Linked DNA regions of Homo sapiens. The gene in region 3 interacts genetically with the main gene of each other region. Each region holds a gene or a part of one and is shown on either strand. Other genes may lie near its edges.

Region 1 (3,568 bases), on a different chromosome or scaffold from region 3:
GATTAGACAGGTGAAAAGAATAAAAAGAAAGTCAAATGATTCCACCAACTCTTTCAATGATCATATATTCCTTGTTTGGAATTTAGTAAATGCTATTTTAAAACCCAGGAAGGCTGGGCATGGTTGTTACACACCTGTAATCCCAACACTTTGGGAGGCTAAGGCGGTAGGATTGCTTGAGGCTAGGTGTTTGAGTCCAGCCTGGGAAACACAGTGAGACCCCATCTCTACACGGAAATTTAGGAAAATCTAGCTGGGCGTGGTAGTGCCCACCTGTAGTCTGAGCTACTTGGGAGACTGAGCCCAGAGGTTCAAGGCTGCAGTGAGCTATGATTGCACAACCGTATTCCAGCCTGGGCAATAGAGTGAGATCCTGTCTCTACAAAAACAAAACCAAACCAAGCCAGAAAAAGAGATACTTCACAGATTACAGAAGATGTAAGATTCTGTTTGCCTTTTTTTGAGACAGAGCTTCACTCTTGTTGCCTAGGCTGGAGTGCAATGGTGCAATCTTGGCTCACCGCAACCTCCGCCTCCCAGGTTCAAGTGATTCTCCTGTCTCAGCCTCCTGAGTAGCTGATATTACAGGCGCATGTCACCACGCCCGGCTAATTTTTGTATTTTTAGTAGAGACAGGGTTTCATCATATTGGTGAGGCTGGTCTCGAACTCCTGACCTTAGGTGATCCACCCGCCTCGGCCTCACAAGGTGCTGGGATTACAGGAGTAAGCCAGCGTGGCCAGTCTCTGTTTGCCTTTTTAATGTCATCTACTTCATTTTGTAAGTAGGGTATCAAGGAAATAATTATCAAGGTATAGTTTGGGAAAAGGTGAGCAAATCCTTAACACAGCTGGCCCAAGGTTTTATTTGGTAGGTCTAAATCTTGACCTTATGGCTATGAAATTTCAAGTTTGTGCTTGAATACATGATTAAAAGAATGAAAATGAAATGACCGATAGTACGTACCATTTTAGTTTTTATTAATAAAATAGAAACTTAGACTCGGACAACTGCTTTATTCTTGCATCTAATCTGACCATATATTGGAGTAGCAATTCTTTATAAAAGGACTTCGGTGAGAACTGTCAATATATCAGTTCCATCAAAAACTCTAGGTTGGAATATCTTAAAAACAGCAAATTAAATATGAGAAAGCACAGAAATCTCTCCCTCAAACAAGAAGGGCTTCCTTTAATAGACTTTAATATAGCTCATTTACAATCGTATGAAAATCCATCAAGATCAATCATGTTGCACAATCCCTAAAGGATAAAACTGAGGGAAGTCATGGATAATTTTCACAGCTTCATTGTAAAGTCCAAGATCTGAAAGAAACATTTAAGCAAACATTTAATCTACAATGGAAAGTTGTAACATCAATTATTATCTAAGATATTTTTACCTATTTCCTTTTTCTCACCCTTTTGGAAGTGAGTTTCTAAAAATGGAGATATGGATTATGGATTCTTGTATTTAACTGTGGCACCAAAAAAAAGACATGGGAGTACCATCCATTTTGATGTTCATTATACAGGCAGTTTCTGCCTGGTAGTGTTTTGGGTGTTATGCATTATTCAATTCCTTCAATTCAGATATTACAACAAAAAAACTAATACTATTTTTGTTATATTTAAAAAAATTATCTTTCAACAAACATTAATTAATCTTTACTGAGTTTCTTACATATATAAGCACTACTTAAAAGCAGGCCAAAACAAAATGTACCCCCATTTGCCTTTACGATCACAAAATTCTATAGAAATTGAAAATGTGGCAGTACTAAAACTCTAGACCAATATATATCAAACTAAAAATAAAACTGTTTTCCTGTATGTTTATGTTATGTAATTGTATGTAATACATACAATTTTGTATGTAATACAAAATGTATGTTAAAACATAGTTATATAAAACTGTATGTTATGTAATTACATACAGTTATATAAAACTGTATGTTATGTAATTACATACAGTTATATAAAACTGTATGTTATGTAATTACATACAGTTATATAAAACTGTATGTTATGTAATTACATACAGTTATATAAAACTGTATGTTATGTAATTACATAAAACCAGTCAATACTAGAATGCTTTATTTACCAAAAGGATGGCTATCTTCTTTAAACTGGACATAAGATGTACACAAGATGGTGGCCTTGGCGGTTACTCTTCCAACCACTTCCACAATTCCAGAGATTTCTTCATCAAGCTAAGACACAGAACAAGACATCGATTTGGTGATATCACATTTTCAGTTGACAATTATTTTGGAAAACTGTTATACAGGTTACTAATCTATCACTTCAAGTAACAAAGTAATTTTAAGAATTACCAGTGTAAAAGTTAAAATGTAACTTGTTAACAAATGTTTGAGTACTTAACTGTCAGCATGTTAAAATTCCTGCTACCTTTAGCAGTAGCTTCAAGTCCAAAGCTACAATTCAAGTTAAAGACAAAATCACTATTGAAAACGTCCAGCATTTCTATAAGCAGTAATATCCTATGAGAGGAATCTTCTATAATCTGTATTTCACAATGTGTTCTGTATACATTAACCAAACAGCATATGGATTTGTCTTCACAAAATACCAAAAAAAGTTTTAAGTATGTTAAACATAAAATGCAAACATAAATAAGTAAAAACTGGAAATATATGAACAAAAATAGAAAATAAAATAAAATCGAAAACTCTTGAGGGGCTGGTCGAGGCAGGAGGATTGCTTGAGACCGAGAGTTCAAGACCAGCCTGAGGAACATAGGGAGATGCCATCTTTACAAAAAACAAAACAAAACAAAACAAAACAAAACAAAACAAAAATTAGCCAGGCATGGTTAAGCATGCCTGTAGTCCCAGCTACTGGGGAGGCTGACATGGGAGCAACTTGATCTTGGGAGGCTAAGGCTGCAGTGCGCCATGATGGTGCCACTGCATTCCACCCGGGGTAACAGAGTGAGACCCTGTCTCAAAACAAAAAAACAAAAACGAAACAAAAAACCTCTTGAGGAAGAAAAAAGCAACGTAAATTTTTCTTATGTGATTTTATGGTCTTTCATAAGGAATGAGAATTGTTATCCAACATTTATGGGATATGTTCAAAAATCATGACGCCCAAAAAATCATTGGTTAAAAATGTAAAAGGAAATATAATGAGAGAATAGTACAAGAATTAAATTTTACAGCCAGGGACGTTTTACCAGCTCATCCTTTTTAAATCCATTGCAAAAATTAGAAACATCGGCAACAAACCAAATCAAGATGAAGAATTAACTATAATATATAAGAGACTTATTAACACTTAAACATACGGGTTCCATCAACTCGATGGTTCCATTTTTTCCTTCTCCATCTGAAAGAATAAACATTTTTCCGGTGGGATGAATCTAAAAACGAAACATATAATTAAAATCTCACTAAAACAACAACAAAGTTTGACTAAAGATGAGTACATTGATCCTTAGTTGAGCACAAATCAACTGTTTCTTGAACAGTTTATTCATTCAGTTTATTCAACTTATTGGATCAAATTATAATCTTATGTTATCAAATCTGTTCATGGAACAC
Region 2 (4,478 bases), on a different chromosome or scaffold from region 3:
GTTTCGTGAAAATGACAGACTTAACATTAAAGTCATTGTGTTGATTTGTTAGCTAAGATTTTAGTTAGATTTATATACATGCCTTCCTCACTGGTTGTGAAGTTCTTGAAGAAGGAGACCATGTTGGAATCAGTTTTGTACCCCCGGCAGAGTGTCTGACATCTAGTGTGATCAGGATTATGTGAGGAGAGTGGCATGTAGGAAGGATTGGAGTGGGCAAAGAGAAGCTGAAGACAGAGCAGTTCAGACCCCAGTGATATAGGGACTGAGCTAAGGTTGAGGCAACTGGAGGGACAGTTTCTTCATCCATTCAGGCTGCTATAACAATATGCCTTAGACCCAATAATTTACACACAACAGAAACTTAACTCTTCACAGTTGTAGAGACTGGGAGGTGTAAGATCAAGGTGCTGGCAGATTCTGTGTCTGGTAAGGGTTTGTTCCTCATAAAAGGGCTCCTTGCCGCATCCTCAAATGGTGGAAGGGAGGAACAAGCCCCTTGGGCCTCTTTTATAAGGGCAGTAATCCCATTCAGAATCATTTCCCAAAGGCCTCACTTCTTCATACCGCCACCTTGGGAATTAGGTCTCAAGCTATGAATTAGGACATAAACATTCAGACCATAGCAGAAAGAAAAGGAAGCATGGGCAGTGCTGAGATGGATTCCACAGGACTGTGCTAGAAGGAAAAGGAAGCATGGGCAGTGCTGCTGAGATGGATTCCGCGGGACTGTGTTTAGTTGTGCTCTTTCTTTTTCCACGGCAAAGCTTGCTGTTTAGGGAGTTAATTTCAGATTGGAATATGAGAAGAAAATTTATTTATGTGACTCTTTTCCTTTTTGGCATTTTCTTTGTTTACATGACTTTTTTTTTAAGAAAGTTAAATTTTAAATAATTTATGAAGCTAGAGTTTGGGGGATTTATATGTATAAAATTTCCTTCAAGCTTCTAGAGTATCGGAGTATTTGTGAATGATAAAAAGAAAGGTAGGGGAATGAGGAAGACCAGTTTATTACGAAGGCCAAAATTTATTGTATCTATTTCTGTGTGACCTTTGATAACAAAAATCAAGAACTTTTGTTTCCCTTTTAGGTGACAGGAGCCTGTTGCCTCTTTCTGGCTGGGAAAGTAGAAGAAACACCAAAAAAATGTAAAGATATCATCAAAACAGCTCGTAGTTTATTAAATGATGTACAATTTGGCCAGTTTGGAGATGACCCAAAGGTAAGAATGATAATAACTTCCTGCCTTCTGGTCTTGATTCCTTATGGTAGTATTGTACAGTTCCACATGTTGACAGTGCCTGTAGCCCTTGTGTCTGCCAGTCTCTTGAGTTCCTAAGAGGGCCTTCTGTAGAAGTTACTTGATGCTTTTGTAAGAAAGGAGGGAAGATCGTGTAGCCTACACTTACTCAGTGCTTCCTTATGTGCCCAGCAGTATTCTAAGTACTTTGGGGCAGTGGCACATTTCATGGATATGAGCAAAAATCCTCTTAATTGCCATTAGGACTCTGCTTCTTAAGTGCAGTGGTGATGGCAGGGTTACAACTCCAGCTAGCTTCTGGGTCAAACAAAAGTATGTATGCTGTATGTACACATACACATGCCTACATATGCCATGTGTCTTTTGCTTCTAAAGAATGTTGGAAGGTATCAACATTTGCAGCATTTTTATGCACCCAGAGCTTGATACTGGTCACACCAGCCATCCTATCTTTTCCATACAGCTCACGCCAGTGTCAGCAAGTGGTGCTCAAATAATTGTACATATTTTGTTGTGTTTTTAAAATACCACTTTTAGGGACCCATGGCAGTGTTCCTCCACTCCCATTCGCATCAAGTTCCCCTTGTTGCAACCTCAGTAACACCTGTTAATTATCCTTCATAACATTTATCACAGTTTGCAATTAAATAGATTTTCAAAAATACTTTAGGCCAAGCCGGGCAGATTGCTTGAGCCCAGGAATTCAAGACCAGCCTAGCCAACATAGCGAAACCCCATCTCTACTATATAAGAATAAACTGGCCAGGCGTGGTGGCTCACGCCTGTAATCCCAGCACTTTGGGAGGCTGAGGCGGGCGGATCACGAGGTCAGGAGATCGAGACCATCCTGGCTAACATGGTGAAACCCCGTCTCTACTAAAAATACAAAAAATTAACCGGGCGTGGTGGTGGGTGCCTGTAGTCCCAGCTACTCGGGAGGTTGAGGCAGGAGAATGGCATGAACCCGGGAGGCGGAGCTTGCAGTGAGCCGAGATGGCACCACTACCCTCCAGCCTGGGCGACGGAGCAAAACTCCATCTCAAAAAAAAATAAATAAACTAATATTACTTTAAAAAAAAAAAACCTTTATTATTTTTTGCTGGGCATGGTGGCACGCACCTGTAGTCCCATCTACTTGGGAGGCTGAGGCAGGAGAATTGCTTAAGCCTGGGAGGCAGAGGTTGCAGTGAGCCAAGATTGCGCTACTGCACTCCAGCCAGGACGAGAAAGCAAGACTCCACCTCAAGAAAAAAAAAAAATGCTTTTTTTTTTTTTAGAGCAGTTTTATGTTCACAGCAAAAATGAGTGGAAAGTACAGAGATTTCCCATATACCCCCCACCCAACACATGCACAGCTTCCCCCATTTTCAGCATCCCCCCGACCAAAGTGGTACATTTGCTATGACTGATGAGCCTGCATTGACACATCACCCAGAGTCCAAACTTTACATTAGGGTTCATTCTCAGTGTTGTACATTCTGTGGGTTTGGACATACGTATAGTAACATGTAGCCACCATTATAGTATCATGTAGTCTATTTTCATAGCCTTAAAAATTCTCTGTGCTCCACCTGTTTGTCTCCTTCTCCCCGCTAACCTCTGGCAACCACTGATATTTTTACTGTCTCTATAGTTTCACCATTTCCAGAATGTCATCGAATTGGAATCATATAGGATGTAGCTTTTTCAGATTGGTCTCTTTCACTTAGTGGTGTGCATTTAGATAGTAGTATCCATTAGATGATTTTTATCAAATTATCACACACATAACTCCCTCCCCTTCTCAGCTGTAAGATGCATGAAAGCAAAGACTATCTGTTTTGTCTAATGCCTCATTCAGTGGCAGGACAGAGTAGGCATTCAGCAAGTACTCGTGGAATAAATGTCAAACTAATGGTCTGAGGAAATTTCTAAATCACAGTTAAAGCTAAAGCGATGAAGTTCAGCCCCATTCATGGTGTTGTTTTTCCTAACTAGCTTGTATTGTCTCACAATAGTTATCTTTTTCTCTGCCAAGCATTATGTATGTATATACAAAATGTATAGTCATTCTCCTCATTGCTTTGAGGAGTTAACAAGGGCCCAGAACACTTTTATACATATTGTGGTTGTGATTAACACTAGTATTTTCTAAGTATTGCCAATGTGGGTAACTCTTTTGAACTTAATTATAAATCCATTAATCTGTTTATAAACATTTGAACCTATTAGGAACTCATATTAACTATAACCAAAAATGCAGTTTTATAGAAATAATTTCACCATCAGATAATGTTTTCAATGTGCATGGGTATTTGATTTTTACTGAGTAGTGGGGCCCTGTGTCCTAACGTGATAAGTCTGATTGTAGGAACATGCTGTGGTTCAGTCACACCCCCGTCACAGGGGCAGGTGAACCTTGTGGCTGGCAAGCTGTGCTTAAGGATAAGGCATCACACAGATCTGGGACCACAGCAGGGCATGGACTCGTGGCAGCTGCTGGTTTGTGCCATCCCAGGGTGCCTTGGAGAAGCCCCCTTTACTTTTAGCCTTTACCCACTGTACCATGAAGTCAGGAAACCAAGCCCCAGTCCAGGAACAGTGAAAGTAGAAGTTCTGAAGCTCCTGTGCCCCAGAAAATGGGAAAAGAGGGGTCACCATACCAATTAGGTCTGAATGGGGGAGGGGGCTTTGCAACCTGCCCCCTGCCTCTCTATCTCGCGCAGTCTTCCCTGGTCGGAGTCGGGGCCAAAGGAAAACACCTGGAGCTGGGAGCAGTGAAGACATTGGGGAAGATGTTTTCCTCTGCAGACAGGAGGGCAATTCTTTAGTGGAGGCAGTATAAGTATTTAGGAAAAATAAGATCATGAGTCCCATGGAACATTTTTTGCCTTAATTAGCTTTATTTTAATTGTGTGGCTTTTCTCTGTAATATTCGTTTCAGCCTTTGTGTTGGGCACTAGACATGAGGCACGAGGCAGAACAGACATGGTCTCTGCTCTCATGGACTCTGCAGTTGAGTGGCAGGATAAATTTTAATCAAATGAGTATATAACTATTTGATGATGAGTTGTGGTGTACGCTGTAAAAGGTCATTTAAGGTGCTGTGATAGCATTCCACCCAGGGACCCAGGCAAGTCCCCCGGATAAATAGGGGCTGAGGGAAGGCGTTCCTGAGGAATGATGTTTGCTCAAAGACCTATAATGACCCCATTAATTGAATATTTGGAAGACAGA
Region 3 (4,232 bases):
ACCTGCATTCATGACTGTATTAGCAAGCTTTCTTTTAGACTTAATAAAAATATTTTTGTCATTTACTGCATTTATATATGACACTGGGATCTGTTGCAGTTATGTTCAGTAAGGCAGCATCCCACATGTGTAATTTCACAAAAATGAAGTCATCCTGAAGGATTCTCTCACCTTTCTAAGTCCTGGGAGTCTGAGGAACTATATACCTTTGCTCTGTGTGATGGCTGGCTGGCTGGCTTGCTTATTTATTTATTTATTTGTTTGTTTGTTTGTTTGAGATGGAGTCTTGCTCTGTTGCCCAGACTGGAGTGCAGCGCCGCGATCTCAGCTCACTGCAAACTCTGCCTCCTGGGTTCAAGTGATTCTCCTGCCTCAGCCTCCAAATCCATGCCTGGCTAATTTTTGTATTTTTAGTAGAGACAGGGTTTCACCATGTTGGCCAGGCAGGTCTCTAACTCCTGACCTCAAGTGATCTGCCCGCCTCAGCCTCCCAAAGTGCTAGGATTATAGGCACGAGCCACCACATACGGCCTTATTATTTATTTTATTAAAAATTTTTTTTTGTAGCAATTATAATTTTTTTTTTTGGTAAAGACAAAATGTCTTACCATGTTGCCCAGGTTGGTCTCACTCAAACTCCTGGCCTCAAGTGATCCTCCCACTTTGGCCTCCCAAAGCCCTGCGTTTACAGGTATGAGCCACTGCACCCATTCCCTTTGCTGTGTTTTTCTGTGCTTATGTGTAGCTGCCAGAGAAGTCAGTCCTTGGCAGGCCTTTTTTTTTTTTTGAGACGGAGTCTCGCTCTGTCGCCCAGGCTGGAGTGTGGTGGTGTGGTCTCAGCTCACTGCAACCTCCATCTCCCGGGTTTAAGCAATTCCCTTGCCTCAGCCTCCCAAGTAGCTGGGATTACAGGTGCCCGCCATCACGCCTGGCTAATTTTTTTGTAGTTTTAGTAGAGATGGGGTTTCACCATGTTGGCTGGGCTGGTCTTGAACTCCTGACCTCGTGATCTGCCCACCTCGGCCTCCCAAAGTGCTGGGATTACAGGCGTGAGCCACCACGCCCAACCTTTTTTTTTTTTTTTTTTTTTTTTGATACGGAGTCTCCCTCTGTCGCCCAGGCTGGAGAGCAGTGGTGTGATTTCTGCCCACTGCAACCTCCACCTCCTGGGTTCAAGTGATTCTCCTGCCTCAGCCTCCTGAGTAGCTGGGATTACAGGCATGCGCCACCACGCCTGGCTAATTTTTTGTATTTTTAGTAGAGACGGGGTTTCACTGTCTTGGTCAGGCTGGTTTCAAACTCCTGACCTCGTGATCTGCCCGCCTTGGCCTCCCAAAGTGCTGGGATTACAGGCGTGAGCCATCGCGCCCGGCCGGTCCTTGGCAGGCTTTCTAAAGCAGAATTTCACAGCTTCTTACTCCAGAGGATGGATTAGGACTGGTGCCAGTGAGACTTCTTTGGGAGAGCCCTGGCCATCTCCTGGCTGCTGCTGTCCAGGGGCCTTTAGGACAGGCTGTACCATCTTTTAGAATTACCATGCTAGTTCTTTTAGTGATTCAAATTTCATCTCATTAAAGGATTTTAGAGCTGAAAAGACAAACACACCAAGGCTCACTTTTGGAAGGTTACCAAAAAATAGTGATTGCATGTAAAACGTTTTAAGATTTTTCCTTTGGAAATTAAAAGACAAGTAGTGTGATTGAATGTGCTCTTTGCCTGTGGCGCTGGGAGTATTTGGGTTTGCTCTAGCCTGCAGAATAGAAAGGAGGGGCTCTTGTCCCTTCTTGGGGGCAGGGTCCATCTTTCAATATTGCTGTTTAGGTATTTCACTGCTGTCAGCTGGGAAGTAAATGGAGGAGGAGGACTTCTCTAAATACCTTACTGTGGATTCATAACTTCCCCCCTTTGAATTCTATGGCCTTTCAGGTCTGTGGGAATGTATTTGGGATAATAAGGCAGGAAACAAGTGTGAGATGCTATCTTGTCTGTCAGAGGGCCAGCCATGAGAACCATCAGAAAAAAGTGGGCATACCAGGTTGCATTCTCCATCTAGCAGCCTGTGGTCACAGCAGCAAGATGTCTGGCTTTCCCTAACTTCAACCTTCAAACCATTTGTTCATCCCATTTAATTTTTAATTTTTATTTATTTATTTATTTTTGAGACGGAGTCTTGCTTGCTCTGTTGCCCAGGCCGGAGTATAGTGGTGCGATCTCAGCTTACTGCAACCTTCGCCTCCTGGGTTCAAGTGATTCTCCTGCCTCAGTCTCTCGAGTAGCTGGGATTACAGGCGTGCGCCACCACACCTGGCTAATTTTTGTATTTTTAGTAGAGATGGAGTTTTGCCATGTTGGCCAGTCTGGTCTCAAACTCCTGACCTCAGGTGATCCACCCCCTTTGGCCTCCCAAAGTGCTGGGATTACAGGCATGAGCCATCATGCCCGGCCCATCCCATTTAGTGTCAGTTTGTTTTAATCAGTATTTGATATTTAGATACTGACATGTTCAAATTCTATCTATCTGTAAAAAATGTTTTTTAGGTAACTTCCTAAATTATTTGTTTCTGTTAGAACGTTTGTACAGAATGATTTTAAACAGAGGAAACTTGTTTATAGATGCCCTTTAATGTCATCAAATATTTTCTTAAAAACCTTTATGATGTTTTTAATGCATTGAAACAAATTGTTCCAAAAAAACCAAATCAACAGTCTTTAAAATACTGAATTTTAGATAATGAAAAGAAGTGAAATGCTGAGGAGGCAGAGAAAAAAAATTTGAGAAATTACCTGATCATGGTAAAAATATCCTGACAGGACCAGTGGTTAGACAGGCAGAACTTCCTCGGGAGAGCCCCGCCCCTTCTGTGGCAAATCCTGTCTCCAGTTTCCTGCACATCCTACTCTGTGTTCAAAGGTTTCCCTGTGAGAGATTAGTTCACAGTTGCTGACACCTCACAATCTCCCTCACAACCTGCAGGAACCGTTACTTTGAGTTGTCAGAGGGTCATTCAGCTCATAGCTACTTTTCATAAACCATCCTAAAAATGTTCTTTATTGACTTGTAGATTTGTAAAAATTGTATCTGTTTAGGAAGGTGAACCTTCCGGAAAGAGAAAAGCAGAAGATGATGATAAAGCAAATAAAAAGCATAAGAAGTATGTGATCAGCGATGAAGAGGAAGAAGATGATGATTGAAGTATGAAATATGAAAACATTTTATATATTTTATTGTACAGTTATAAATATGTAAACATGAGTTATTTTGATTGAAATGAATCGATTTGCTTTTGTGTAATTTTAATTGTAATAAAACAATTTAAAAGCAAGTCTCTATGTTTAAGAAATCTACTTTTCCGGCCAGGCGCGGTGGCTCATGCCTGTAATCCCAGCACTTCGGGAGGCCGAGGCAGGTGGATCACAAGGTCGTGGTGGCGGGTGCCTGTAGTCGCAGCTACTCGGGAGGCTGAGGCGGGGGAATTGGTTGAACCCAGGAGGCAGAGGTTGCAGTTAGCCGAGATCGCGCCACTGCACTCCAGCCTGGCGACAGAGCAAGACTCTGTCTCAAAAAAAAAAAAAAATCTACTTTTCCCAAAGCGAACTGATTTTGTTAATGCTTTAAACAAACAAAGTCTTAGGTCTCAGTGAATTCCTGCTGCTCTCTCAACCCCCTTCCTCTCATTCCCCACAAAGAAGCCTTCTGGGCCAGGCTGAGATTCTCTCACAATTCTGGAGACTTGGAGTCCAAAATCAAGGTGTGGGACGGCCATGCTGCCTCTGAAGATTCTTGACAGGGATCCTTCCTTGCCTCTCAGTTTCTGGTAGTTCCTGGTGATCTGTGGCTTTTGACAGTATGACTTCAGTCTCTGCCTCTGTCTTCACATGACCTTCCTTGTGTCTCTGTTCCGGGTCTCAGTATCTCCAGATCTCCCTCTGTTTGTAAGGACACTATTCATTGGATTTAACTCTAATCTGGTGTGATATCATTTTAACTAATTACATGTGCAAAATTCTCTGTTTCCATATAAGGTCACATACTGAAGTTGTGGGTAGACATGGATTCGGCGGGGGGTGGGGGGGTAGGTCACTATTTGATCCACAATGATAACGATGATATTGTTGTAATATAATTGTTAAAATATTGTATTCAAAATTAATGTCAAAAAATCCATAATGAACAAAATGTCAAAATTTTAAATAAAGATGGGATCTGGGCCGGGCGCAGCGGCTCATGCCTG
Region 4 (4,478 bases), on a different chromosome or scaffold from region 3:
TCCTTGGTTGTAGTTTGGTTTCGTATGCTAGTTTTCTTTAATGCTGGTTGTGCTAGCAGTGAATTGTCACGTGGACAGACTCAGGACCTCTGGTTAGCCAGGATGTCACAGGTGGTGGAATTAGCTGTTGTTTTCTCCTTTTGAGGGCAGGGTTGTTCTTTTATGAGTTGCTATAATGAGTTGGTTGGCCTCCAGCCAGGAGGTGGCGCTTTCAAGAAAGCATCAGCTGCAGTAGTGTGGTGGGGATACAAGCTTGCCCTAAGGTTGCCTGGATAAGTATTTGGGTTTCCCAGGTGATCAGTGGGGCCATAAAGCTCCCAAGAGTTTACAGTCTTTTGTCTTGGGCTACCAGGGCAGGTAGAGAAAGACCATCAGGTGGGGGCATATCTGAGCTCAGAATCTCCTTGGGCAGGGTTTGCTGCAGCTGCTGTGAAGGACAGTTGTGTGGTTCTCAGGCCAATGGAGTTATGTTCCCAGGGGGATTATGGCTGCCTCTGCTGTGTCATACTGGTGGCCAGGGAAGTAGGGGAAAGCCAGCAGTGACAGGCTTCACCCAGCTCCCATGCAGCCAGCAAGGCCAGTCTCACTCCCACCATGCCCCACCAACAGCATGGGGTTTGCAGGGCCAAGATTTTGGCCCAGGCTACAAGCCTACTTGCTGAAAAAGCAAGCTAGCCTTTTGGACTCCGCCCCTTCCCGACTGCTGTGGCTTATGTGCTCATATCTGTACTTCCCCTTTACGCCTTCCCCATCTTGATTGTGCCCAGGAAAATTTGCTCTCCGTCAAAGTTATTACAAAGTTCACCTGGAAGTTTCTGTCTCCAAGTGGTCCTTCCTCAGTTCCACTGGCAGCACTCCCCAAGGACCCCTGTGAGATTAAAGTCAGAAATGACTTCCCTGGGCTTCACTGGGAACCGGGAGTGCCTACAGGGCTCTTCCCGCTGTTGCTTCTTCTATTTTTATATTTCACTCGGCTCTCTAAATTTTGTTTCAGCACTAGGTAAGGTTAAATTTTTCTCCCATGATCTGGATTTTTAGGTTCTCCAGTGAGGATGTGTGTTTGAAGGTGGATTTTCCCCCTCTTACACATGGGCACTCACAGATTTTCTGCTGTCTCATGGATTTTGCAGCAGCAAGCCACTTCTTTTAAAGGGTCTGTGAATTCTTTCAGTTTTCCTAGTATGTTCCTGCAGTAGTTCTTGGAATAAAAATTCACAGTGTGAGTCTCCACATGTTGTTCTGTCTGTCTGAGGGGAAGCTGCAAGTTAGTCCTGCCTCCTATCTGCCATTTTTTTTTTGCCACCTCATCCTCTTGAGTAGCTGGGACTATAGGCATACACCACCATGCCCAGCTAATTTTTGCATTTTTTTATAGAGACAAGGTCTCACTCTGTTGTCCAGGCTGGTTTTGAACTCCTGGCCCCAAGTGATCTACCCACTTCAGCCTCCCAAAGTGCTGGAATTGTAGGCGTGAGCCACTGTGCCCATCCTGGTTTGAACTTTTTATGATTAATATGTATTGCTTTTATAATTAAAATGTATTTTAAAAATTAAAAAGTGTGATGGAGTTGGGGAATAAAATACAGTATAAAATGCTATGTTCTTAGAAATAAGTGGTCCTGTGGCCATGCAGAAAAAAAATAAGAGCAGTTGTGAGGGGAAATAAGTAATGAAGTTAGAGAGCAAAAAATTTCCAAGCCTCTTCATTGCCCATTTCTTCCCATCCTTGAACTTCAGTTTTCCATTTCACTTCGGAAAACAGATCACATAACGAAGAAAAATTATCTTAGAAGAAAAAGGGCAAACTTGCCCATCTTAATAATTTGTCTTCTCTATTCATTATGTGTCTAGTCAGTGTAGTTGATTAATTTGATATGTTTTCTGTTAGCTTTTTTGTGTACTGAGTCTGTGATTTTCTTACAGATGAACAAATTGATTGAATATTACCAGCAGCTTGCTCAGAAAGAGAAGGTTGAGCGAGATCGCAAGAAACTGGCACGACGTAGAAACTATATGCCTCTGGCTTTTTCGGTGAGAATTTGGTACTAAAATGATTTGCAAGACCTCTAAGGCCTAAGAACAGTGATCATTTCAGAAAATGGCCATTGTCCTAGATTCCTGAATGGTGGATATCAGAGAGAGGGATTCTTCAAATTATAGACGTTTAAGTCCAATAGTTAGGCTTTTGCTATATCATTAGTTCTGTTTGAGTTATTTGTGTTTTGAGGACATTTGTGTTTCTTTCTCCATCACTCCCCTTTATCTTCTGATTATTTCCCCAGAAAGGCTGTTAATTTTGTAGGCACTGCAGAGTTCCACGTACAGCTTTTGTGTATTACAGAAAGTCTGAGAAGAAGGAGGTGGGCAAATGGTAGATTTCAGTCATATTACCCCTGTAGCCCACCTTTGACATCCTGGCAGTAGTGGTTTCTCAGCTTTAGTTATAATTTTTTTAACATCCTCCCCTGTTTCTCCAAGATGAAAAACACTGACTTTTTACATAGTGCACTTGTGTGGTTAAATAGTAATATATGCAAGTAGAATTTTTGATAAGAATTATTTATGAGAGTCATTCTCTACCAGTTTACGTACTGCTAGTAAGAAGAAAGAAATTAGGATTTGGAATTTTTGTTATTTTACCCCGAGTTTTATTTGCTCTCATAGTACAGTTTGTTTTCTGTGTGCTTGCTTGGGGCCCAGCAAATTGACATTCAATAAATAACATTTATTGAATGGCAATGATGTGTCAAGCTCTGTGCTAAATAAACACTTTACATGTATTACTTTACTTAATCCTCACAAAAATCCTGTGGAGTATCATATCCCCATTTTACGCTTGAGGAAATGGGACCTAGTTAAGCAACTTGTCATACTGCATCCACATGAAAATTAGTTAAGTCATTGAAACCCTAAGGGTTGGTAAAGTCCATATAAAAATACCTAGATTAAGCTGGGTGCAGTGGCTCACGCCTGTAATCCCAGCACTTTGGGAGGCTGAGGCGGGGGGATCACTTGAGGTCAGGATTTCAAGACCAGTCTGGCCAACATGGCGAAACCCTGTCTCTACTAAAAATACAAAAAATTAGCTGGGCATGGTGGCGCACGCCTATAATCTCAGCTACTTGGGAGGCTGAGGCATGAGAATCGCTTGAACCCAGGAGGCGGAGGTTGCAGTGAGCCAAGATAGCGCCACTGCACTCCAGCCTGGGTGACGGAGTGAGACTCTGTCTCAAAAAAAATCTAGATTAGAATTTAAAAACATTAACACTTGCAAAGCACCTACATTTGCAAAAAGAAGTGAATTTTTCTGAATAGTCCAGTGGTATAGTCAGCATATGCACCAATGTGTGTTATATTTAGAGGTAGAATTTGAATTAAATGAATTATTCTTCCAATTTTCCCATATAACCTGCCTGCTATATGCGTTTGCTTCTATCTTATGCTGCATTTTTTGTCTCTGTTGCAACCTGCTGCTATTTTGGGGCTCTACAGCAACATACTATTCATGTAGTGGTAAGTTCTCCTTTATGATTCTTGCTGACCCTGAAGAAGTTAGCAGATGACCACTGGTGTTCCAGGAAGACGTCTGTTGTGTATCTTAGACACTCCACATAGTTCTTGCCTGAGCCGTAGCTTAGATACTTTTAGATTACTAGCAGAAGCTCACATTTGGTTCATTTTTACTGTATTAATATAGTTTCAATCTCCATGTTTAGTGCTGTTATTATTTTAAGAATAGAATAATGATGTGGGGCTACAAATTGCTTTCTTTAAAAGAAGCCTTTAGATTAGCTTTTTTTTTGCTTATTTCCCTGAGCTTCTCATGCTATCCTACCCAAAATTCTTTCTTTTGATAAATAGGGTGTGTAAAAGTGGACTTTCTAATAGGAATTTCTGAACTTTGTTTAGGACAAATATGGTCTTGGAACCAGGCTTCAGCGACCACGAGCTGGTGCATCCATCAGTACCCTTGCCGGACTTTCGTAAGTTTAGACATGAAATGACTTTGAGGAGAACAGCAGGTATCAAAATGAATATCAAATAAATGAGATTAAAACACACACACACACACAGTTGTCAATGGAAAAGAAGATTCTCATACTTAGAAAAGACCTACGCTATACAGATATTCTATGACAGAGGAATACTTCAATTATTGATATCATAGACTGAGGATAATCAGGTGGATCCGTGAGAAATTACTCTTTTGTTTTGTTTTGTTTTGTTTTTTTAATTTTTCAGCCTTAAAGAAGGAGAGGATCAGAAAGAGATAAAGATTGAGCCAGCTCAGGCTGTGGATGAAGTGGAACCTCTACCTGAAGACTATTATACAAGACCAGTAAATTTAACAGAGGGTAATTTTCTGTGTTTTTCTACTTTGTTTCTAGTCTACATCTAATTCTGTTTTTGTTATTTATGTACCTAGTGATTTGAGATTTTTAATGGAATAGCTGTTAGTAGTAAAAACAATATGTAGA
Region 5 (4,478 bases), on a different chromosome or scaffold from region 3:
CCAGCCTGGCTAACACGGTGAAACCCGTCTGTACTTAAAAAAAAAAAAAAAAAAAAAAAAAAAAAAAAAAAAACCATCTGTACTAAAAAAAACCCATCTCTAATAAAAAAAAAATATATATATATATATATTAGCTAAGTGTGGTGGCACACGCCTATAGTCCCAGCTACTTGGGAAGCTGAGACAGGAGAATCGCTTGAACCCAGGGGGCGGAGGTTGCAGTGAGCTGGATCATGCCACTGCACTCAAGTGCAACTCTGTCTCAGAAAATAAATTAATTAAATAAATAAATAATAAAAAATAAAAAAACTGTGCAAGACAGGATGACTAGTGAAAGCCTTCCAGGGGAAGTGACTCTTCATTTGAAATTTGAAGTACCAGTTCAATAGGTAATGGAGGAATATGAGGAGGGAGGGCCTCACTCCAGGTGGAGGAAACAACTTATAAAAAGGTCCTGTGGTGGGAGGCAGGTTCAAGAAATAAAAAGAAGACCCAAATGGCAGAATAAAAGGCAGGGAGAAAGGTGACTTATGGTATCACAACATGGTAAGCCATGACTCTGGTCTTGATCCCAAGAACAGAAGGAATTAACTGAAAAGTTCTAGGCAAAGGAATGACATGACCAGATATATGCTTGTAAAAGATGGCCCTGGGTGCAGAGTGGATATTAGGAAGAAGCCAGAATAAATACAGGTAGTAGGCCATGTAATAGGTCAGGCAAAAGAGCATGAACTATGGTTAGTGACAGCTGTGCTGAAAAGAAATTGGTGAATTTAAAGTATATTTGGAAAGCAAAATTGGCAGGACTCCAGTGAATTACACAGAAGGGTAAAAGAGTTAAGGATAACTCTTAGATTTCTGGTTTGAGCAACTAGATGGATACTGGCACCATTTATGAAGACAGGACAAGAGATAGCACCAGGTTTGCTTGTAATAGAAGGTTAGAGAAGTAAATTTAGAAGTAGTCATAGGGACAGGAGTGAATAAAGAGTGAGAAGATAAGGGGTCCTAGAATGAGTTTTGAGGATCTTAACAGCTTGCAAACAAAACAAAATTGTAAAAAACAAAATAACCACAAAAATAAGACAATAATTGACTTGAAAAACGCACATCATAAACCCCTAGAGAAGAGACTTTCAAAGAGCAACACTACAAGACAGAAACAGTTGAATATCTCTAATGTGCTAAGAAAAAAATAAGTCTATCTAAATGTCTATCTGTAGAAAAAAGATCTTTCAAGAAAAGGCATAAAATAAAGCATTTTTAGAAAAGTAAAGTACGGTTAAATTTAAATTACACTTACGCTTAGTGATTCATCAAAGACTCTCATGAGTTTTCCAGTTACAAATCTGAAAATTCTAACTTTTCTATCAGAACCAATAGTAGCTATTTTCTTCCCATCTGGTGAAAAACATACGCTGGTTGGATAAGCCTTACACTTGGCAAATTCATATAAATCAGTGTCAGTTTTATATTCCCAGTTCACATTTTTGGGGAATTTATATTCATGAGGAGGCCCAGTCCAGTATTCAATCATCCCAGATTTGTCAGAAGACACTACTGCTTTGTAAACTGGGTTTAGCCGTATCTGAGTAAGAGGTGATGTATGGAGTTTGTCAAAAATATGAAGTGGCTGGTTATCTCCTCGGCCATCATAAATGAAAATTTTTCCTGTACTCTTTTCGGAAGCAGCAACTGAAGAAATTGCATCCCCTGGGCAATAGATCCACTCACACTGTCCAGGAAAATAGCTAAAATCGTAAAGAATTGAGAGGGAAAAAAAAAGGTCAGCACAACAAGCAAGCATCCCTCCCTATCCCACTACCAAAAATGTCTTGGCTGGTGATTTAGACAGTTTTGGATTCCTTGCTCAAAAGTAGCAGAGACACAGAATGGGGAGGAACAGCTAAGAATAGTTACTTATTTTTTCTCTTTCTGACCTCATCAGTATAATGATAGTTCTAAGGATCTGTCAAAACATAAGAAAAGAACTGCATATAGCAGCACACTTATTTCTCTTGGGCAGATAAGGAAACCTAATCAGATCTGGACCTTAAGATCTTCTGGGACATTGCTTTTTGGATCTCTGTACAACAGTCTATGTATAACTTACTTTAAAATAGATTAGCATGTAATAGTGTATTTTATAAATCCTTTCTTGAAATATTTAAATCAAATATTTTATTATGACAATACGTCAAAGAAAAACACTGTCCTAAAACACTCTCATTACTAACTAAATCTTGATATTAAAACTCAAAGCTTTAAACATTCTACCTGATGAACAAGGCATAACAGAATTCAGACTGATCTAATCAATTGTACTAAAACACTCAAAAATGAATGTTGTTTCCTTCAAAGTAGAGATTCGGAGAAGTGACACTATTATTCTAACCACGGTGCTGATGTTCAAAACCTTCCAGACCTCTTCTTCAAGAATTTCTATCAAAGTCTGAAATATACTCTTCCAAGTATTCTCAAAGGGCAAACATTCAATATCTGTGAATGGAAAGCTTTGAGGAAACAAACCTGGGGAGTAGGACAGGTGATCAAGACAGGTATGTTTGTGCCATTCTAACCATAAATAATGAGATTTATTTCCTTTAGTGGCTCATAAAGTCATAAACTGATTTTGAAGGAAATTCTAAGATGTGAAATTATTTGAATTGTGGGCATAATTCAGCCCACAGTTGGAATTCCATCAGTTGGAATTTCTAGAGACATGGTCTTCAGGAGGTAATTAAGGTTAATGAGCTCATAAGAGTCAGGGTGGGGTCCTAATCTGATGGGCTTGTAGCCTTATAAGAAGAAAAAAAGATCTCCCTTTCCTTCTTCCCTCTCCCTTCCTTCTTCCTCCAACCATGGGAGAACATAGGGAGAAGTAAGAAAGACAGCCCTCATCAGAAATCAAACCCTGATGGAACCTTGATCTTGGACTTTCCAGCCTCCAGAACTGTGAGAAAATAGATTTCTGTATTTAAGTCACCTAGTCTATGGTTTTTTTGTTATGGCATCCAAGCAGACTAAGGCGAGTCCCAAAACTTTCTGACACTGTTATGACTTTCAAGCTGACATTCATTTAGATGTGTATAAATTCTATGTTATCTTAAAAAAGACATGCTTAAAACAAAGTATCAGTCTTAATACTGTACAATCTAACCATAGTTTTAGTATCAATATATTCCAAAGTTTAAAGTCACCAATAAATAGCTTTAATTCCAAAAATGTGAATAAATCTTATAGGAACTCAATTCTATATTACTGAAATAAGTAAAGCAAGGAAGTTAACTGTAACTACCAGTAATTAGATATGACAGAGCTCCAGTAATATTACTAAGTAATGTCAATTTGGATATAAGGAATCCTTGTTATGATGCTGTTTAGAAATTTCTGTGATTGATAACAAATCATAGCAGATGCTTCCAAACATTATAAGGCTTCACTGTATCTAATTTTCCAAGCAAAACCCAACAGCACATTTTATTTAAAGATATGGTAATATACTATTTAGAAATAACCTATTAAATGGTAAAGTCTGATTTACAAATTACTTCAATAAGTTAAAATATATATACTTTTAAAAAGACTCACCCAAGTTTCAGCATGTTGATCATGTCAAAGTTCACTACATCAAACACCTTCATTGCTTTATCATCACCCACAGAACAGAACAATGCTCCCTCAGAGCTAACTGCAATACTCTCAATAACTCCTATTTCAATAAATGAAATTAAAACATTCTAGTAAATAACAGTAAAATAAGTGTGCATGATTCAAAGAAAAAAAATTTAAAAAATTTAAACTTTAATTAGTATAGTTTAGGAAAGAGCTACAAGAAAATGAGGTGCAATTCTTACCCAGGTGACTACGAAAATGTTTAACAAATTCAATTCCCTCTTCTATTTTTTTCCAGAACTTGACATGTCCATCATGACTGGCAGTAATAATAAAATCTGTTCTGCATATATGAAATGTTAAAAGTTAATTTCTAAGACAGATCTATGAATCACTTAGTATTCCCAAAGCAATCATTCACTAAGAATCTGACTTGTGCATAATAGGTTTTTTTTTAAAAAAAACCCTTCTTTAAGCAGACCACTATATTACAGAACACTGCAAATTTTGAAACTCCTTTCTGGATGTCAAAACAGTTACAGCTGTACTAATTTTAACCTCAAGAGCTAGGATCAGAATTGAACTAGAATTTGACATTAAAATAAAAATCTCACTAGGAATCACTACACTTTGGATTCCTTATTGCTAAAATTACCCTACAGACAGTCTTTTCACAAGAAAATAAACTATTTGTCAGTAGCTGATAAGTAAATCTAAACATACTACTTTCATACGCAACAAAATTCAACAAAAGTTTTTTTTATATCCTATACAAGGTATTTTGGTTACTTAAGTATCAAAAAGATTTTGTACAGAAGAATCTTTCCTATTAGGTATGTAAAAATAGAAATCATTTATGGAAA
Region 6 (4,478 bases), on a different chromosome or scaffold from region 3:
CTGAACTAGGAAGGGCTTTTCTAATTTTCTCTGGAAAAGATCAAAACATATAGAGTATGAAACTAAGAAAATATGTCAGATACTATTCTTATAAAGGGCTAAAGTATTAACTTGTTTAATCCTCATGACAACCCTACAAAACAGCTACTATTATCAACACCATTTACAGATGAGAAACTAAGGTACACAGCAAGGAAGTGGAGGAGCCCGGGTTCCAGCCCAGGCAGTCCAGCTCCAGAATACAGGCTCTCAGCCACTACGCTGTGGTACTGGCAAATACATCAATTTGAAAGCTCTCCTCATTAATATTAGAAGAACAATTTGAAAGTGTGCTTTTTTTGCAAATGGATTCGTCAACATAGAACAGTTTTATCTTTATAAATTCTGTGAATAAGTGCAAGTATAGATTAATTCCACCTCCACATACACCTAAACTAAGAAATCTGACAAAGGTTTTAAAAAAATTTGATGAAAATATATTTCTTAAAGATCACCATGAATTACTGGCAATCATAGCGATCCAATATACTTTTTTCTCATCCACCTATTGAAAAAGGGAGGGCAGTGGCCAACTAAGAAAAGAAATTACCCTGGATACTAACAGACTTTTAAAGAACTTGGCTACAAAAGGTAGAGATAACCAAGGTATCCAATCAAAAGGAGCTAGCTAGGTGGGTCACAATAAATATGCTCTGGGCAACATTACATAATGCAGAAAATGATATTATTAATAGAAAGGCTACTTGGCAGCATGGAAATGCTGACAAAATATGTTAGGTAGCAAAAGACAAAATACCAAAGTGAATATTCACCATGATTACATAATTTTTAAAAAGGGAACTAAAATACTATTCTGTGGTAGTATTCATGAAAAGAAAAAAATTAAAAGAAAAAAACTCAAGCCAGGCATAGTGGCTCACACTTGTAATCTCAGTGCTTTGAGAGGCTGAGGTGAGAGGTTTGAGCTAAGGAATTTGAGACTAGCCTGGGCAACATAGTGAGACTTCATCTCTACAAGAAATTAAAAAATCAGTCGGGCATGGTGGCACACACATGTAGTCCCGGCTACTTGGGAGGCAGAGTCGGAAGGACTACTTTAGCCAGTTCAGGGCTGCAGTGAGTTATGATTCCAAGACCGCACTTCAGCCTGAGTGACAGAGCAAGATCCTGTCTCAATCGATAAGTTAAAAAGATACTAACCACATATAGTAAGTATAATTAAAAGAAAATGCTCCAAACAGTTAGTGGCAGCTGTGGTAAAATTATGGGCTACTGGGTATTTCTTTTATACAGATTTTTTCATTGATATTCTATTACTTATATCATTAAAATAAAACCGTGATATATTAGGTTCATAAGTTAAGAAACTATCTCAATAAACTATTTCTCTTTCCTCGAGATGACCAAAAAAAGTATTTTAATGTTCATGATACAAACCAAAATCGATATACTCATCAATTTCCCACACAATGTCAGGCACAATCCATTTATATTCACTAAGGTCCGGTATCATATCTTTCCACTGATCAAAAGTCTAAAAGACAAGAAAGTGTGTCAATCAGATGCTCTGCATGCCAAATAAACATGTAAAGAAAAATTATTTAATTAAAACACATTAATCTACTAAGAATAATGTATTATGTTCAAAACTTTTAAGAAACAAAATTAAGTGGTCTCAGCAAACAAGCATATAAAACAAGTTAACACTCCTCTGTTAAATATGGAAAATGTAAAAATTCAGAATATACTCCTATTTCAAACAGGTTTCATAATTTTGCCCTAAATATTACTGTGGGGTAGAAGGAAGACAGACTGGGAGACAGGACGCCTTGCCTCTGGTCCCAGACCTGCCAAGAAGTGCTTGTGTGAGAATGCCACCTGACTTTCACATCTGTGCTACTAAATGTCTAAGCTCAAAATCAAACCTAGGTGTTCCTATTCCCAGCCCTGTGCTCCTTCCACTAGGCCATTTTAATTTCCTGTAATTATAACTAAGATTCTAAAGGCATCTTCCTATTAGCATCATTAAAACAATCTAGTCCATGGTAGAGACACAAAATAAATGTTTAAACATCCAATTGTATTCCACTACACAAAAATGATTTATGCTATAGAAACTTAATCATGATATAATAATTGGAAAACCAGGAGGAATGTCAAGTTCACCTTTTTGGCTGTGTAGCCACCCCCAACAGCCGATCCTAGTATGAGATAGCGAAGTTTTAAGAGTCTCGTAGCTAATCTTGCTGGCCAAAAATTCCTGCGAGGCTGGTAGCCATATTTAATTGGAGAGAATTTCAGTTTACGTAAAGGAAGGTTTGTCAGAGAAGAGAACTGCTGAAAGGATGTCCTTAATTGGGGTCGTTGAAGCTTTAAGGTAGGATGATGTGAATGATAAATGCTTCGTGAAACCAGATGTAGTTTTTGTAGTGGTAAACTTCCTTTTATTCCAGAGCTGTGTTTCACTAAAGACTGGCAGACCTCACTGAAAGAAAAATGAATATGGAAGAAAGATCAGAGAGGGTAACAGTACAAAGGAAATGACATTAAAAGAGCAATATACTAAAGGAAACACAGCCCCATACGTGACTAACCACAATGTCACACAATAGTTCACATTTACTAACCATTGACTATGTGCCAGACATGGTTACAGTATGTGCTATCTCATTTAATCCTGCTAACAATCCCATGTAGAAAGTACTAGTATTATCCTCATTTTACAGATGAGGAAAATGTGGTGCAAAGACTTAAATAACTTGCCCAAAGTCACACTGACATAAGAAACAAAGGCATGATTCAAACCAAAGCAGTGGGACTCCACTCTAATATGTGGGCTATGATCCTGGTCTCAGGAATTGAAACCAAAGAGAGAAAAGGCAGGGACTTATTTTATTAACTACTATTCACTGTAAGTAAAAGTTGAAAACAAAAATGCATGCAAACTTTTGCTTTCAAAAACAAAATTTCTAGCAGTTTAGAACACCTTCATCTATGTCTCCCGATCCTGACAGCACAGGGGTGGAAATTAAGGAAGTTAATCAATCCCAACTCAAGCACCTGGATCCCCAGAAGAATGAAAGTAGCAAAAAAGCTCGAAAGGGAACAGAATTTAAATGTACACATTGACTGTAGAGCTCCACCCTCTTCTTCTTCCTGAAGAGAATGAAAGGTTACCAACAACCATATCTTAACATACACTCATAGTTGCATACATAGTTGCTTGCTTACTATTAGTTGCTTACTAATAATCAGGGCCAGTCTGATTCTAAGTAGTTAAAAAATATTAATTCCTTTAATTACAAGGGACTGGAAACTTCTTAAGAAGGAGGCAGGGTGTGGTGGCTCACACCTGTAATCCCAGCACTTTGGGAGGCTGAGGTGGGTGAATCACCTGAGGTCAGGAGTTCAAGACCAGCCTGGCCAACATGGTGAAACCCCATCCCTACTAAAAATACAAAAATTAGCTGAGTGTGTTGGTGTGTGCCTGTAATCCCAGCTATTCAGGAGGCTGAGGCAGGAGAATCACTTGAACCCAGGAGGCAGAGGTTGCAGTAAGCTGAGATCACACCACTGCACTCCAGCCTGGGCAACAGAGTGAGACTCCACCTCCAAAAAAAAACAAACAAACAAACAAAAAAAAAACAAAGAAGGAGGAGGAGGAATCAAGGAAGACAGGAGCAATGCTGTGAAGAATGGTATGGGGATATGGGAAAAGCGGTATCTCTTGTGTTCCTATACATACCAGACATTACGCTAGCTGTTTTCACTACAGCATAACTATATAAATGTTAACTCTCAGAAACACCGAGTAAGGTTAAGTATCCTTATTTTACAAATTTTTTTTTTAAGTATTGTTAAAGCAAACTAAATATGGCCTGAGAAGGACTCCATACTTCTATATTTGTGTTCTTGTGGACAAACCATAACCTAGCACAATAGGCAGACAAAATGGAAAACCTGAGTAGTATGCATCTGTAATAATAGCTGAGTGTTGGCCAATCCCAGTGGCCATACTTCAAGCACTAATAGACTGCTAAGTGTTCAAACTGCATTCAATTCTGGAGGCTGCCTGATTTGCAAAGTGTTTATTTTCCTTGCTTAATTAAACTCCATCAAATTTAACTTGTCTGAAGTTTTCTTTTAACAGATCTGGTGTCAGAAGTGGGATTTGAAGAAAAACTCTGGCAACCCCCTGGAACACCAGGTGACCTGGTGAGGTACCCACTGAGGCCGTTGCTCTCACTGGTCTCTTGATTGTAACTGGAGGTCATGGGTGAGTTTTCTCTCAGATTCCGAGCTCCACTAACTTGTGTTTTGAGCTCTCCGAGTTTACTCAAGCAATACTTAGCCTGGACTGGATCCAAGATCAAATTGGATTTGATAATTAACTGGATTGGATTCAGTTAGAGGCCTCAGACCTCTGATAAGTACCTTATTTAATAATGGGATCATCTCAATCCAAGGAGTCTGGGACT
Region 7 (3,398 bases), on a different chromosome or scaffold from region 3:
AACAAGACCTCTGAGGCCTAGACTGAAAACTGGAAAACTCTCACTTCTGCTACTTTCTGTTGGCCAAAGAAGTCACAAAGCCAGCCCAGATTCAAAGACTCCACCTCTTAATAAGAGGAGATACAAAGTCACATTGCAAAGAGCATCAATATATGAAAAGAGTAAAGAACTGTGACCATTTAGATAAACAGTCAAATAGAAAAACCATTTAAATCAGTATTTCTTATATTGGGGTCCACTGTGGACACATGCAATTTACAAATGCTCTTCAGAAGACTTGTACATTTTCTCAAATTGACTGCATGTGTAAACAACCTTTTTAGGGTCATTTAACTTCTTCCTTAAATTGCACTTTGAAATTAATATTGCCATTCCTTCCTTTCCAAAGTAGAATTTGTATGAGCCTCCTTGGGCCATATGTGAAAATAATCATTCAAGTCCCTATTGGATATTTTTAAAAATTTTATTTTAGTGCACAAGTATAATTCATCTACCAATATTTCCTTGCTTTCATTCAAAGTATTTGTAATAGGCTGGTGCAGTGGCTCACACCTATAATCCCGGCACTTTGGGAGGCCGAGGTGGGAGGATCACTTGAGCCCAGGAGTTTGAGACCAGCCAGGGCAACATGGCAAAACCCCATCTCTACAAAAATACAAAAACTAGCCATGTGTGGTGGTGCACACCTATTCTCCCAGCTACTTGGGAGACTGAGGTGGGAGGATCACCTGAGCCTGGGAGGCTGAGGCTAAACTGAGCCATGATCGTGTCACTGCACTCCAGCCTGGGCAACAGATCAAGACCCTGTCTCTAAAATAGTAAGAATAAAATAAAATCCCTTAAGTTGACATTTTGATATCATAGCTTTTTACTGAACCATGTATTTGTTTTTACCCTTTCTCCTGACTGTATCTCTTTAAGTAAACCCCCAAAGAAGCAGTAACTATTTTTCAGAGCCCCCTGTCCCTCTGAATCCACAATAAATACTTTCAATGATAGATGTACAGTTGTCTTTCCCATCAGTCAGCTCTTTCAGGCAGGGGCCATATTTACTATGTTCACTGCCTGTATCTTCAGTACCATGTATATAATAGTTGCCCAATAAATTAGAGTTGAAAAAACAAAAGCTGACCTTTTTTTTTTTTAATCTATCATGATTACTTTTTGAGAAGAGAGATGGGGTAGTGACCGGGGGTGCAGGTAGGGGCTTCAGGGTTGCTATTTATGTTCTATTTCTTGTCTTAATGGGGGTTATTTGTACATGTTCATCAGCTGATCATAATTTGTGCTGTATACTTGCAATTGGTGTACTTTCTGAATGTGCTACACTCAAATGATGAAAATTTGGGTCTACAGTAATTCTTTGGAAAAGAAGGAAAGTACAAGCATTCAGAGATTGCCATTAAAGAATAACAGATAATGGCTTCTGAATGTATTAGTCCATTTTCACACCACTATAAAGAATACCCAAGATTGGGTAATTTATAAAGAAAAGACATTTAATTGTGTCAAAGTTCTGCATGGCTGGGGAGGCCTCAGGAAACTTACAATCATGGCAGAGGGTGAAGTAGGCACATTTTACATGGCAGCAGGCAAGACAGCGAGTGAAGAGGGAACTTTCAAACACTTATAAAACCATCAGATCTCATGAGAACCCACTCACTATCACGAGAACAGCATGGGGTACACCACACCCATCATCAATCACCTCCCTCCGTCACTAGGTGGGGATTACAGGTCCCTCCCTGGACACATGGGGATTACAATTTGAGATAAGATTGGGTGGGAACACAGAGCCAAACCATATCACTGAACATGCAAAGTGAAACTTCAGGTGGGGACCACAATGTTCATGGATGTTAGAAAGTACACTCTTAGCCACGAAAACTAGCCGGATGTCACAATGGGAAAGATTCATTGAGATAATGTATATATAGTGCTTAAAATAGTACCAGATACAGTCAGTGACACAGGTTAGCTATTATTACTTTTTGTAACGTACTGGAAGCAGTTCCAAATGAAGGCTTAACCTGGGAAGGAAATTTTCTTCATTACAATCCTACTTTTTCCTTACCACTTTCAAAATAGCTTTTACAGCCTGACTGAAGCAGTGCCTTCACTTACATAATTTATATTTATGATGTCCATGGCACCACCTGGCTTTAGTCACACCCAAGGAAGTCACAACTCCAAGAGCAATCGTGGAGCATCCCCACCACATGAGAGCACAGTGACCTGGTGTGATAATTCTCCAACATGCAAATCACTGGGGCATTTATTAAAACTGCAGGTTCCATGGTCTCCCACACCAAAGCTTCTGATTCACTTAGTCTGAGAGTAGAGCCCAGGAATTTGCATTTTTAAACAAATTCTTCAAGTGATTCTAAAAAAGGTTTTCTACAGAGAACATTGAGTCTCTTGTTTCATAAATGAATGAAATGGAGGCCAGCAAGGGAAGAGACCTATCCAGTCTTCTTTCTGGCTAATGAGAATGCACAGACTAGAATGAAGGTTACCTTTTAATATTCCAGTGTTATTTCCCTGACTCCATGCTACAACAGCTTAGGACCCAGAATGAATCTGTCCTACACCTTGGTTTATTCCACTGACCCCTGATGTCTTTTTACCCATGCATTAGGTTAACTGGAGAGACACAAAAACCCAGCTGTATACTCAAAAGGTATGCAGAACCAGCTACTTTAGAAACCTTTCAATCATAGCCCCAATATTTACATGCTGTGTGACTTGTGATAGTTATTTGAATTCTGTGTGCTTCGGTTTATTCCTTTGTAAAGTGGTAAAACAAAAGCTACATTTTCAGGATGTTGTGAAGAATTATGTAAAATACTAGCACAGAGCTTGCAAATAACAAGTTCCCAGTAAACAGTAACTATTATTAATGCCATCTTAAAACATGGCAATAAAACTACATTTTTTCATTCTCCTAAAGCCGTATTCTCAAAGCGTAGTCCCCTACAACAGAATTACCTGGAAGTGTTTGTTTAAAACATAGATTTCTGAAACCAGCCCCCCATAAGACCTAGTGAATTGAATCATTGGGGTGGGGCCCAGAAGTCTGCATTAACAAGCAAGCATCCTCGATTCTTCTTTTGCATGCAAAAGTTGGACTAGGGCTGTAGACAAAGAGTACTTCTTCTTAATGAAGACGTGTATGAATGAGAGGGAAGCAGTGTTGAACACTCTAATTTGAAACTAACAATTTTCTGCTAATAAAAGGTTGAGTGCCACCTACTGCCCCATTTTAGAATGCAATGCTGAGATTGGTTCAATTCCTCTCTCAGTAATTGAATTTACCCTGAAAAATAAATCAATCCTAAACAAGATATCCAAACAATATAAAGCACTGTTGGAAGAAGAAATAAAAACAGGCTTTGCTT

What was found.
Region 1: changes in LEO1 (region 3) and RPA3 together harm fitness more than expected from each alone (negative genetic interaction), as found in Homo sapiens cells (one large-scale study listed by BioGRID).
Region 2: changes in LEO1 (region 3) and CCNK together harm fitness more than expected from each alone (negative genetic interaction), as found in Homo sapiens cells (one large-scale study listed by BioGRID).
Region 4: changes in LEO1 (region 3) and DCTN4 together harm fitness more than expected from each alone (negative genetic interaction), as found in Homo sapiens cells (one large-scale study listed by BioGRID).
Region 5: changes in LEO1 (region 3) and PPWD1 together harm fitness more than expected from each alone (negative genetic interaction), as found in Homo sapiens cells (one large-scale study listed by BioGRID).
Region 6: changes in LEO1 (region 3) and OPA1 together harm fitness less than expected from each alone (positive genetic interaction), as found in Homo sapiens cells (one large-scale study listed by BioGRID).
Region 7: changes in LEO1 (region 3) and MRPL22 together harm fitness less than expected from each alone (positive genetic interaction), as found in Homo sapiens cells (one large-scale study listed by BioGRID).

The regions. Positions count from the first base shown.
Region 1 is NC_000007.14:7,635,758-7,639,325, forward strand, and holds the end of RPA3 (replication protein A 14 kDa subunit), read right to left. Parts: intron 3,388-3,568; coding exon 3,313-3,387; intron 2,216-3,312; coding exon 2,107-2,215; intron 1,326-2,106; coding exon 1,243-1,325; 3' UTR 761-1,242; downstream 1-760. UniProt on the Homo sapiens protein: As part of the heterotrimeric replication protein A complex (RPA/RP-A), binds and stabilizes single-stranded DNA intermediates that form during DNA replication or upon DNA stress.
Region 2 is NC_000014.9:99,494,407-99,498,884, forward strand, and holds part of CCNK (cyclin-K), read left to right. Parts: intron 1-1,091; coding exon 1,092-1,223; intron 1,224-4,478. UniProt on the Homo sapiens protein: Regulatory subunit of cyclin-dependent kinases that mediates activation of target kinases.
Region 3 is NC_000015.10:51,937,116-51,941,347, reverse strand, and holds the end of LEO1 (RNA polymerase-associated protein LEO1), read left to right. Parts: intron 1-3,062; coding exon of another isoform or gene 3,063-3,087; coding exon 3,088-3,192; 3' UTR 3,193-3,323; downstream 3,324-4,232. UniProt on the Homo sapiens protein: Component of the PAF1 complex (PAF1C) which has multiple functions during transcription by RNA polymerase II and is implicated in regulation of development and maintenance of embryonic stem cell pluripotency.
Region 4 is NC_000005.10:150,730,921-150,735,398, reverse strand, and holds part of DCTN4 (dynactin subunit 4), read left to right. Parts: intron 1-1,923; coding exon 1,924-2,031; intron 2,032-3,492; coding exon of another isoform or gene 3,493-3,513; intron 3,514-3,909; coding exon 3,910-3,983; intron 3,984-4,242; coding exon 4,243-4,355; intron 4,356-4,478. UniProt on the Homo sapiens protein: Part of the dynactin complex that activates the molecular motor dynein for ultra-processive transport along microtubules.
Region 5 is NC_000005.10:65,569,112-65,573,589, reverse strand, and holds part of PPWD1 (peptidylprolyl isomerase domain and WD repeat-containing protein 1), read right to left. Parts: intron 3,959-4,478; coding exon 3,858-3,958; intron 3,713-3,857; coding exon 3,592-3,712; intron 1,752-3,591; coding exon 1,304-1,751; intron 1-1,303. UniProt on the Homo sapiens protein: PPIase that catalyzes the cis-trans isomerization of proline imidic peptide bonds in oligopeptides and may therefore assist protein folding. May be involved in pre-mRNA splicing.
Region 6 is NC_000003.12:193,612,730-193,617,207, reverse strand, and holds part of OPA1 (dynamin-like GTPase OPA1, mitochondrial), read right to left. Parts: intron 2,486-4,478; coding exon 2,167-2,485; intron 1,535-2,166; coding exon 1,438-1,534; intron 31-1,437; coding exon 1-30. UniProt on the Homo sapiens protein: Dynamin-related GTPase that is essential for normal mitochondrial morphology by mediating fusion of the mitochondrial inner membranes, regulating cristae morphology and maintaining respiratory chain function.
Region 7 is NC_000005.10:154,967,492-154,970,889, reverse strand, and holds the end of MRPL22 (large ribosomal subunit protein uL22m), read right to left. Parts: 3' UTR 1,479-3,398; downstream 1-1,478.